Linked DNA regions of Homo sapiens. The protein of the gene in region 1 purifies or fractionates together with the protein of each later gene. This does not show direct contact. Each region holds a gene or a part of one and is shown in the gene's direction. Other genes may lie near its edges. The genes, in order: ZPLD1, GNPTG and WDTC1.

Region 1 (3,651 bases):
GAGGGGGTCTTAAGGGAGTCAGCTCCCAGAAGCAGCTGGAGAAATACACACCTAGAAGGAAAGGGCACTACTTTGAATGGAAACTGCTATCCCCAGGGCTGGGGAATCTGAAGAAAAAACAGTAGAGAATGCTCAGAGCCTCAGAAGTGGCAGATCTCATAAAGTACCAGGAAAAGTATACCTTCTAAAGGTAAAGGAATCGCCTGGGAAGGCAGGGGCTCTGTCCTTGGTGGCAAGGCTGGTGAATAAACCTCAGGAACCCAGGGCTGATGGTAGAACCCTGTGAATATCTTTTAAGTTCAGTCAGCTGCACAGTTCTGCTATATTCAAAGAAAGTTGTTATTGAAAAACAGAGGAGGGAGCCCTTGAGTTGGGGAAACCCTTAAGGAAGGTATTTACCATTCCACATTGCCTTAGGGGTCCTAAAAATTTTAGGTTTAGGGAAATCCAACTCTTTCAAACTTGAATGATAAACAGATGCAGGTATTTCTTGCAGTGTTCCAATATTCTACAGGAAAAATATCGAAAATGGCAGAAAAGAAAATTTAAAGGTGAATTAAACTCACCAGAAAAATGCTGCCATGGAATATATAATATATACATTCCCACATTAATTTTTAAAAAGCAAAAAGCATCATGGTTATGAAGATAGAATTATGAGAACTTAGGTAAGTAAGGATAGGACAGTAAAAGCCATGGCTATGGAAATGTGTAAAGGAAACTGGGATAAGTGAAAATAAACAGAAATACAAAAAAATGTGTGAGAGGAAGGGACATGTAATTAGAAGGCATTCAAAGGAGTGCAGATCACAGCAGAAACAGTGTGGGACATGAAAGATAAGTATAAGAAATACAAATAAAAATAAACAAATATGAAGGAAAATAAAAAGAGGATTAAGTAAGAAAGATAGAAATAAAAAGGTGAGAAAGGGAATTCGATATATGTATAATATGCATAATTAGAATTGTCCCCCCAAAAGCCAAAATAATAGAACACATTGTTTAAAAATATAATCCAGGAACACTTTCCTAAATTAAAAAAAAATCTTACATTGATATAATGAAATGATGCCCTGGATGAAATTGAAGATTTCATTAAGTGGAAACCAGGGGAAATATAAAAAGACATAGAAATAAAATTTAAAAATTAGAATTTTACCTCTTACAAAACTTACTTCTGGTGGCCAACAAGTAAGTAAGGAAGTAAGGATACAGAAAATCTAAACGACATACGCAATAAGCTATATACAGAGAGACAGCAATTTATAACGATATCAAAAACCAGAAAGTCCTCACCACTTGGAAGTTGTAAAACCCATAAATAAGACTTGTATCAAAAATGAAAATATGAACCAATGTTTTGGAAGAAGTTAAGAAAAAGTTGGTTCCTTGAAAAAATACATTAATAGAGAATCACAAGCTAATCACGTCAAGAAAAAAAGGGATAAATGACAAATACAAAAAGATAAGCCGGGAATCAACATGGAAATGAGCAGAGTATGGTTCTATCAGATATCACAATCAATAAAATGTCACAATTATTAAAGGAATGTGATATTATGCAAAGCTAGACACATAGACAAAAGTCACAGAACAGTAAACTGAGAAATAGATCCCCAAACATATGGGAATTTAGTGTAAGATAGAGTGTGGTACCACAAATCAGTGGGATAAGTAGATTTTTTAAAACAGTGTTGGACATGGATAACAGTAAGATAAAAAATAGTATTGGACCTATACTTCACTCAATATACCATAATAAAACCTAAATAGATTATTAATTTAAAGGTAAAAACTACAACTTTAAAACTGGTAGAATAAAACAAGAGAAATACCTTTAAAACTTTGGAGTAAGGAAACTGGCTTCAGTGTAAATACTAGAAGCCACAAAATAACATATTGAAAATTTAACTACGTAAGAATAAAACTGTACACACACACACACACACACACACACACACACACACACACGGAATGTCCAAAGCCAAATAACAAAGGGAAACAATTTGCAACTTATATAACAACCAGTAACCACTTTTCTTAATACATAAAAGAACTCATAAGAATCAGAAAGAAAATGGCCAAGAACACAACAGAATTGATCAAAAGACACAAACCATTTTCAGATAAAGAAATGCAAATGACTATAAGGTATGTGAAGATACACAAACTCATTAATTATAAGAAAATACAAGTTAAAATTATAGGGTGATAGTTCATTTTTACTCTCAAATAGGGAATAATAAAAAATTTGATCCATACATTTCGCTGATGTAGCTCTGGAGAAGTAAGCATTGTTTTCATATATTGCTTGTGAAGTCCAAAATTGAATAATATTTATATAGGGCAAAGTGACAATATCTATTAAATGATTATATGGATGTATTCTGTAGTTAATCCTGTACATGTTCAACATGATATATTGTAAGATTATTCATTATTAGTTTTTAAAAAGCAAAAGATTCAAAAACAATGCATGTACATAAATAGGAAACTGATTAAATAAACTCTGAAACATGTCCATGATGAAATACTATACAGCTGTGGAAAAAAATGAGGAAGCTCTCTAAATATTGATACGGAAAGATCTCTAACACTGCTAAATCTTTAAAAGGCGAGGTACCACATAGTGTAGACAATATGCTATCATTTGTTTAAGGAGGGAGGACAATAAGAATACATTGCTTCTGTTTCTATTTTCATATACCCTGGGAATGATGTGAAAATAAATGAAAATAAATGAGAATGAAAATAAGTGAGATCACCTCTGGCAGGTTTCTATGTATTTTAAATTATTTGGATTTTTGAACTACATGAAAGTATAATTCTTCTAACTATTAATGCAATCAGAAACTGATCTGTTTAAATTTTGTGATCCAGGTTTTATTGTCATATCTGTTGAATTAGCTTATGCTATGATTAAATATCTGTAACGTGGCATGGTTCTGTTAGCTCTTAATGTAATGGCGGAGTCTTAATACGGTAGAAATTAATTTACAAGTCCCAGTAGGTTGGTACTTTCCAGTGATGTCCTGTTTTCACGTTCCCTAAAATTTAGCTGTGACAAGGACCCTCAGACCACCGTCATTGAGAATGGCCGAAGCCAGCGGGGCCGGTTTTCTTTTGAAGTGTTCCGATTTGTGAAACACAAGAATCAGAAAATGTCCACTGTCTTCTTGCACTGCGTTACCAAGCTCTGCAGAGCAGATGACTGCCCCTTCCTTATGCCGGTATGTTTTTAAGGAACTTCATTTTAAGTTGTTGAATTGATCTAAGCTGAAAGGTTATCAAATGTCAGAAACTAAGTTCTGCATAGAAAGTGGATATGTGTTAGATCAAATAGTTTGAAGTAGGATTTATTCATTTGTCTAGTAAAGATCTGCTAAATATCCTACTTTGTGCCAAGCATTATACCGAGGATACAGAGATGAGGTGTGCACAAATTCTGAATTTAATTAGATTATTCTTTAGGATCATTAGCTAGTCACAGAAGAAATCAAGACAAAAATCTTATGGTGCAAAGGCAGACAAATATATGGGTTGTAGTAACAGGCAGTATTCACCATTGTGAGAGAGATGAAGCAGGAGAGGTTGAGAGGATTGTTAGAGATGAACTCCAGCTGTTACTTCGAAGAGGACTGAACCCCAGAG
Region 2 (3,651 bases), on another chromosome or scaffold:
TGATCTTTTTGTTTTGTTGATGGTGTTTTTCTCCAGACCATTTTTTCCTGCGCCTGTGGGGTCAGGCGTGGATAGTCCCCCGCGTCTGTAGGGCTGGGCGTGGATACTCCCCCGCGTCTGTAGGGCCGGGCGTGGATTGTCTCCCACGTCTGTGGGGTGGGGCCGGGCGTGGAAAGTCCCCCGCGTCTGTGGGGTGGGGCCTGGATACTCCCCCGCATCTGCGGGGTGGGGCGTGGATCGTCTCCCGCATGTGCGGGGTCGGGTGTGGATGGTCTGCCGCGTCTGCGGGGTCGGGTGTGGATGGTCTCCCGCGTCTGCGGGGTCGGGTGTGGATGGTCTCCCGCCTCTGCGGGGTCGGGTGTGGATGGTCTCCCGCGTCTGTGGGGTCGGGTGTGGATCGTCTCCCGCGTCTGTGGGGTCGGGTGTGGATCCTCTCCTGCGTCTGTGGGGTCGGGTGTGGATATTCTACTTGTTTTTTCTGTCTTTGATGTAGCGCTCCTTCAACATCAACGTGTGAGGCGGATTGTGTGCAGTGGGTAGGAGAGTGTGGTCTGTGGAATGAGCTGAGCAGAAAGATAATCAGGCTGAGAAACTCAGGGGCGTGGTGATTGTGGCCTAGGGCTCAGAAGGTCCCCGCAGAAGAGTGTCTGCCAAGGAGAAGGAAGGGGTGGGCTTGCCAGGGCCGAGGCTGGTGGGGCTGGGCTGGGCAGTGGGCAGCTCCATGGCCTCCACCAGATGAGTCGGGAGCCTCGTCCCTTGACAGCAGGAGGAGCAGAGGTTGGTAGGTCTGTGATTTGGAGACAGTGTCCCGCTGTGGCATGGAGAGGGAATGGGGCACGGTCAGTGTGGTGGTCCTGCCAGCGCCCAGCAGAGTCCAGCATAGCCCAGCACACTGTCCAGGAGGGAGCTCTGCCTCGGTGGCGGTGGGAGGGAGCGGCCAGCTGGGCAGGACTCTGGGGCCTTGGCAGGGTCCTGGATCTGGGGAGGGGGCGGGGGAGGAGTAGAGTGGCCCCGGGATCCTGGCTAGAGAAGCCATGGCAAGTGCGGCTCCCAGCATGTGAGTTGCAGGGGTCAGGCTGGGAGCTTGCTTTCGGCTGGGGCCGGGCTGGGTCTGCCAGGCAGTCCCTGGTGCTTGGAGAGGGTCACGGTGGGCACAGGACTCACCAGGGGGTGCGTGAGGCCGGAGGGTGAGGGTGAGGTCCCCGGTGAAGTTCTTGGTGGCGTGTGGGGGTTGTGGAGGTTGGGAGGGTACTGGGACCAGGTGTGGGGCCGGGCCAGGGAGCAGCGTGGGAGGGAGGACCACCCTTGAGAAGGGATTGTCACCAAGAGACGCAGCCCTAGGGGGAGTGCTGCCCACCGAAGCCTGACCGGGGCAGAGGGGAAACGGAGTCCAGGCTCAGCCAAGCTGATGGGCCTTGAGCTGTGGCCTCGGGTGCAGGGACAGCTGGCAGTAAGGCCACCTGGGCCCGCGGGAGCCAAGGGCACCGGCGAGTGTCCTGGCCATGCAGGCCGTGAACACGGAGCCTGCAGGGGACGTGCGGGTGAAGCAGGAGCAGAGGAGAAGCCTCCCGGCAGGGGTGGTGGCATTTGGGGGTGGTGGTATTTGGGGGTAGAGACTCCCGCTCAGGTATGGCTGTGTCTGGCCCAAGAGGCGTGGAGGGGCCAGCCCCCACCTGTCTCAGGAGGACAGGCTGCTGAAACCTGAGGGCCAGGCGGAGGGGAGGGGCCGTGGCCGGGGTTCTGGTGTGGGCCAGCAGCAGAGGACCTGGGGTACTGGGCACTGCCAGTTGGGGGCTTGTGGTACCATCCCCTGCGGGAGGCTGCACCTCAGCCAGTAGGAGTCCACTGAAGCTGTGGACAGCACCCAGGCAGAGGCCTCCTCCCAGCTGGGGAGCCAGGCCAGGCCCCGCTGCCCTCACACAGTCCTGTTTAGACGGATGGCCCTGCAGGTGCAGAGCTAAGCCCGGCGCCCACGCCCCTCCTGGGGTGTCTCCAAGCAGTGTCTGCCTGGGGCAAGCCTGGGAACGTGAGTTCCCAGGACACAGGAGCTTGACCAGCCACCCTCCCAGCGGGAGTGTGAGAGCGGGAATCTGCGGGCGGGGGTCTGCGGGCGGGAGTGTGCGGGCGAGAGTGTGCGGGCGGGGGTCTGCGGGCGGGAGTGTGCGGGTGGCGGTCTGCGGGCAGGAGTCTGAGTGGCAGATGGGTGAGGGACACATCAGGGTCTCTGGGATGGCTCCAAAGGCTTCCCTATGTGCCTGTTGGGCAGGGCCCTAGGGCCAGACTGGAGGGACCAAGCCCAAGCACCCCAGGCTGTGGGACAGCAGGTGTGACAGGGCTGAGGTAGAGCCCCCAGCGGTCAGGCTGGGAGGACAGTGGGTGAGCCTGGGAGTAGGGGCCACCCAGATGGTATTTGACAAGGAAGGACCAGGACCTTTCTATATCCACAGCCCCTGTCCCCTGAGCAGGGCAGCCTGGCCATCTTGGTCTCCATCTGTCTTGGGAGGGGACAGCCCCAGGGGTGAGTGGAATGTCAGGGAACAGAAGGCCAGGCCGGGCCAGCACCCCAGAGGTCTCAGTGGCATTAGCCTCTGCCCTCCGGGGGCGGGGGCCAGGCTGAGGGTGGCCCCAGTGTGGCATCTGGCTCCTGGGCTGGCCAGATTCCCAGGGAACAGTCACCCAGCACCTCGTGTGTATTTCGACTTTATTATTATTATTATTATTATTATTAGAGCCGAGTGTCGCTGTGTCGCCCAGGCTGGAGTGCTGTGTCGCCCAGGCTGGAGTGCAGTGGCGCGATCTCGGCTCAGTGCCAGCTCCGCCTCCCGGGTTCACGCCATTCTCCTGCCTCAGCCTCCTGAGTAGCTGGGACTACAGGCGCCCGCCACCATGCCCGGCTAATTTTTTGTGTTTTTAACAGAGACGGGGTTTCACCGTGTTAGCCAGGACGGTCTCGATCTCCTGACCTCGTGATCTGCCCGCCTCGGCCTCCCACAGTGCTGGGATGACAGTCATGAGCCACCGCGCCTGGCCTCGACTTTATTATTAATACGGTAAAACTACAGAGAGTTTGAAACATCAGTCTGGGGCGTCCTCCTCTAACCAGTGCACTTGCTGCTGCAGCGCAGGCCCTTCAGGGGACGGGGATGGGGGCCAGTCCCCTCCCTGCCTCCACGGCCCAAGCCCCAGCCTTCCCCACAGTCCTGGAGGATGGCCCGTGGCTGACAGTCTCGGTGGGCGCTGTGTTAAGGTGGCGTCCCCAGCCAGGTCCCGACTCCCCAGCTTAAAGAACAGGGTGGCTGCTGTGGCTTGACTCACGAGTTGCCACTGGCCTTGATGTGTACACGCCCTTGCTCTAGCACTGCCTGGGGCTGGCCTGGCTGGAGGGTAGGGACGCTGCACGCCTTCCCTCTTCCCCCAGGCGCTGGTGACACTGCCCTGCAACCGTCAGCACCATCATCTCCACAACTTGCTCTGTCCCCTTCAAACCCTGACTCCCAGCTGCCCCGCTCCCCCAGCCCCGGCACCCACCATTCTGCTGTCTCTGAACTTGGCTATTCATAGACGTCACATAGGTGACTCATAACTGTGTGCGACCTTTTGTGTCTGACCAACTCCTCTTGGCACAGTGTCCCCAAGGTCCCCCAGGCTGGA
Region 3 (3,651 bases), on another chromosome or scaffold:
TATAGTGTCTTTCTTAAAGAAATCACTGTATATAATATTTCCTGCTAGTTCTTATAACACTCAGAACCCCCACAGCACTCTCAGACCTGAGTTGCCTCTCCAGCCTGGGCTTTCCATGATTCTTGGGATGGATGCAGGAATGTCGCCTGTTTATTTTCATTCATGGGCTTGGTGACCACTGCTGCCCCTCACACACTGCATGGCTTGGAGCGGGTCTTGAACCTTAGCTTGCTTGTTTGTAAAATGGGAAAAATAAGATGGTCATGAAGACCCAGACAGCTTATAGGACCTACCTGGTAAAGCACTGTAATGTATATGTCTGTAATTGTCTAGTTGGTGGGCCTTTGGGGTTGCTTAGGTAAGGAGGAAAAATACCTCCTGTATGTCTCAGATACAAATGTAAGTTTTCGTCTAGTGAGTGTGGTCTGGTCTAGCCAGGGGCAGTGCTGTAACTTTAACCTATATGATTTTCCTTCCCACCAGAAAGAGCATGAAGCAGAGCCCTTCAGCGGGTGTGCACACCTTCTGTGACCGGCAGAAACCCCTTCCGGACGGTGCAGCCCAGTATTACGTAGCAGGTAGCGCTCAGCACAGCTCTGGCCCCAAACTCTCGGCTAGATGCTGACTCTTTTGGGGGCAGTCCAGGGAGACAGCATGGCATGGTGGTCAAGAGCAAGGGTTTTAGAGTCAGACAGACCTGAGTTTTAATCCCAACTCTGCCATTGACAAGCTATGTCACCTTCAGCAAATTACAGAAAAGAAACTCATCAAGGTTAAGTAAAATGGGGTTATAATGACTAAATGAGATAAAATATATAAAGCAACTAGCCCAGTGCATATAGTAAGGGCTCAACACTTGTAGCTGCTTTTATGCTAAAGTTGATTGGTATAATTTTTGATATGACTGACTTCACACAATCTCATGCCCCTTTGAAAGGGACTGGGACCCTAGTATGACTGGGCTATTCCCTGCAGGTCACCTGCCAGTGAAGCTTCCTGACTACAACAACCGTTTGAGAGTGCTGGTTGCCACCTATGTGACCTTCAGCCCCAATGGCACAGAGCTACTAGTCAACATGGGGGGGGAACAGGTATGTACAGCATAAGGTGGTTCTGCCCCATCACCATTCCATGCCCAGCAGCCAGGGGCATGTACCTTATGTTCACTGCTGAGGCAGACAAGACACAACAGCCTTATGGTAAATGATGTTACATTGAAATGTGGGGGTGATGTGGCATCATTGGAGTTCCCAGAGAGATGTCCTAGCTCAGTCTTTTTATTTCATTTTTTCTTAATGAACTAGATAGAAATATGATAGTATGGCATTTTGGTTAAGAATATAGGCTTTGGAATGGACAGACTTCTGTTCAAATGCTGGCCTGCTGTTCAGCAGCTGTTTACTGTGACTTTGAGCAAGTCTCTTTATTTTTCTGAGCCTCAGTTTCCTCGTCTGCTATTTTCCTAGGAGGAAATCCCTGGGGCTCAGAGCATGCAGCTCAGAGCAAGCTGTGGGTTAGTGCCAGCTTTGGGAAGTGTTCTTTGATAATGGCAGGTTGCTAAACCTTCTGTTTGTGTGCTCTCAGGATATTTAGTAAGCCTTGCATACATTTATTTACTCTACCAACACTGAGCACTTACTCTGGGACTCGCATTATTATAAATATAATAGAGACAAGTGGGAAATATGATCCATCCCCAGGCTGATGGGAGACATGACAAACGAAACAGTTAATGACATTACAAGGCAAGGCCCAAATATATACAAATGAAGCGGGATGCAGAATAGGTGAGGATAAGCCAGACATTCCTGGACCTGTCCAAGGAATCATGAAAAGCTCAGGAGTAGTGCTAGGGTAAACATTTGGCTTTGTGACCTTTGAGGACTTCTTCATCTTTTTAAACATGTGACGTGTTTTTTGTTTTTTTTTTTTGAGTTGGAGTTTCGCTCTTGTTGCCCAGGCTGGAGGGCAATGGTGCGATCTCGGCTCACTGCAACCTCCGCTCTGCCTCCTGGATTTAAGCAATTCTCCTGCCTCAGCCTTCCAAGTAGCTGGGATTACAGGCACATGCCACGCCTGGCTAATTTTGTATTTTTAGTAGAGATGGGGTTTCACGATGTTGGTCAGGCTAGTCTCGAACTCCTGACCTCAGGTGATCCGCCCACCTCACCCTCCCAAATGCTGGGATTACAGGCATTAACCACTGCACCTGACCTTCTATTTTGTTTGTTTGTTTGTTTGTTTTGAGGCAGGGTCTCATTCTGTCACCCAGGCTGGAGTGCAGTGGTACAATCTCAGGTCACTGCAGCCTCGACATCCCAGGCTCAAGTGATTCCCCCACCTCAGCCTCCTGAGTAGCTGGGACCACAGGCACACGCCACCACACCTGGCTAGTTTTTGTATTTCTTGTAAAGACGGGGTTTTGCCATGTTGCCCAAGCTGGTCTCAAACTCCTGGGCTCAAGCAACCACCCTCCTGCCTCAGCCTCCTAAAGTGCTAGGATTACAGGCTACGCCACCATGCCCAGCCAAATGTGATTCTAATTAATGATAGTATTTCAAGCAGGACTTTGGGTAGATCAGATAGCCCACCCTGAATGCTAGAGCTAGGAAGATTTTCCAGCCTGAGGTTTGCTGGAAGTACCTCTTAGGATAGCTTGATTGTTCTATGCTCAACACTCACTGTGTTCCAAGACTCTAGTTCTTGAGAAACCAAGACCTGCTTACTGGTTCAACCACATCCTTACCTCACAGCTTCCATCTCTTTTTTTGCCCCCCTCAACTCTAGGTCTATTTGTTTGACTTGACTTACAAGCAGCGGCCGTACACCTTCCTCTTGCCTAGAAAATGCCACTCCTCGGGGGGTAAGTTCTCCCTTAGGGTATCTCTACTGCGGCGGTGTAGGGGAGCTTAAGTGCATGCTACACCTGCTGAGAAGCCTGCCCTTTACTCTGGACCGTGATCCTCCAAAAATAGCAGATCTCTGAAATAACCCCACCTATGCAGTAAGAAAGAGGATGACAATAGAGCAGAGATCTCTTCAAGAGCTTTGCATCACTGCCCTTTTTGCTTCCCTCTGAAAAGACAGGTTCCTTCCATGGCTTGGCTCTTGAGAACCTGAAATAGTTCCCCTCTCCTTTGTATCCTGGCCCAGTCTTCTCATTGATTTCTTCCTGGGGCCTACAGTTGATTTAGGCACCTCCTCACTCCATTCCCACCCCCAGCCCCAGCCCTAGCCCCAGCCCCAACCCTAGCCCCAGCCCCAGCCCTAGCCCCAGCCCCAGCCCCAGCTGAGTAATGCCACGGTGAAGTTGTGTCCCTCGCCAGCCAGCAGAGGGCGCACGGGCTTTTCTTTATGTCAGAACTTGCTTTCTGGGAATGGATCTTACTCTGGGAGAACAGTCCCACGATGGAACCATCAGACCCCGTGATGGAAGCTAGAGGGCTGCCAGGAAGAAATGGGTCCTCTTCCTGAGTTGTTGCTGTCACTTTCTCACTATCTCCTGCCAGAAGTCCAGAATGGCAAGATGTCCACCAACGGTGTGTCCAACGGTGTGTCCAATGGCCTGCACCTTCATAGCAATGGCTTCCGGCTGCCGGAGAGTAGGGGACATGTCAGGTGAGGCCAGCTGGCTTGTCCAGCCCTCCAAGC

Evidence for each region.
Region 2: the proteins of ZPLD1 (region 1) and GNPTG purify together in Homo sapiens (affinity purification with mass spectrometry; one large-scale study listed by BioGRID and IntAct). This does not show direct contact.
Region 3: the proteins of ZPLD1 (region 1) and WDTC1 purify together in Homo sapiens (affinity purification with mass spectrometry; one large-scale study listed by BioGRID and IntAct). This does not show direct contact.

Annotation. Positions count from the first base shown.
Region 1 is NC_000003.12:102,465,906-102,469,556, forward strand, and holds part of ZPLD1 (zona pellucida-like domain-containing protein 1 isoform 2 precursor), read left to right. Parts: intron 1-3,058; coding exon 3,059-3,230; intron 3,231-3,651. UniProt on the Homo sapiens protein: Glycoprotein which is a component of the gelatinous extracellular matrix in the cupulae of the vestibular organ.
Region 2 is NC_000016.10:1,354,783-1,358,433, forward strand, and holds part of GNPTG (N-acetylglucosamine-1-phosphotransferase subunit gamma precursor), read left to right. Parts: intron 1-3,651. UniProt on the Homo sapiens protein: Non-catalytic subunit of the N-acetylglucosamine-1-phosphotransferase complex, an enzyme that catalyzes the formation of mannose 6-phosphate (M6P) markers on high mannose type oligosaccharides in the Golgi apparatus.
Region 3 is NC_000001.11:27,293,539-27,297,189, forward strand, and holds part of WDTC1 (WD and tetratricopeptide repeats protein 1), read left to right. Parts: intron 1-483; coding exon 484-578; intron 579-975; coding exon 976-1,091; intron 1,092-2,787; coding exon 2,788-2,863; intron 2,864-3,509; coding exon 3,510-3,618; intron 3,619-3,651. UniProt on the Homo sapiens protein: May function as a substrate receptor for CUL4-DDB1 E3 ubiquitin-protein ligase complex.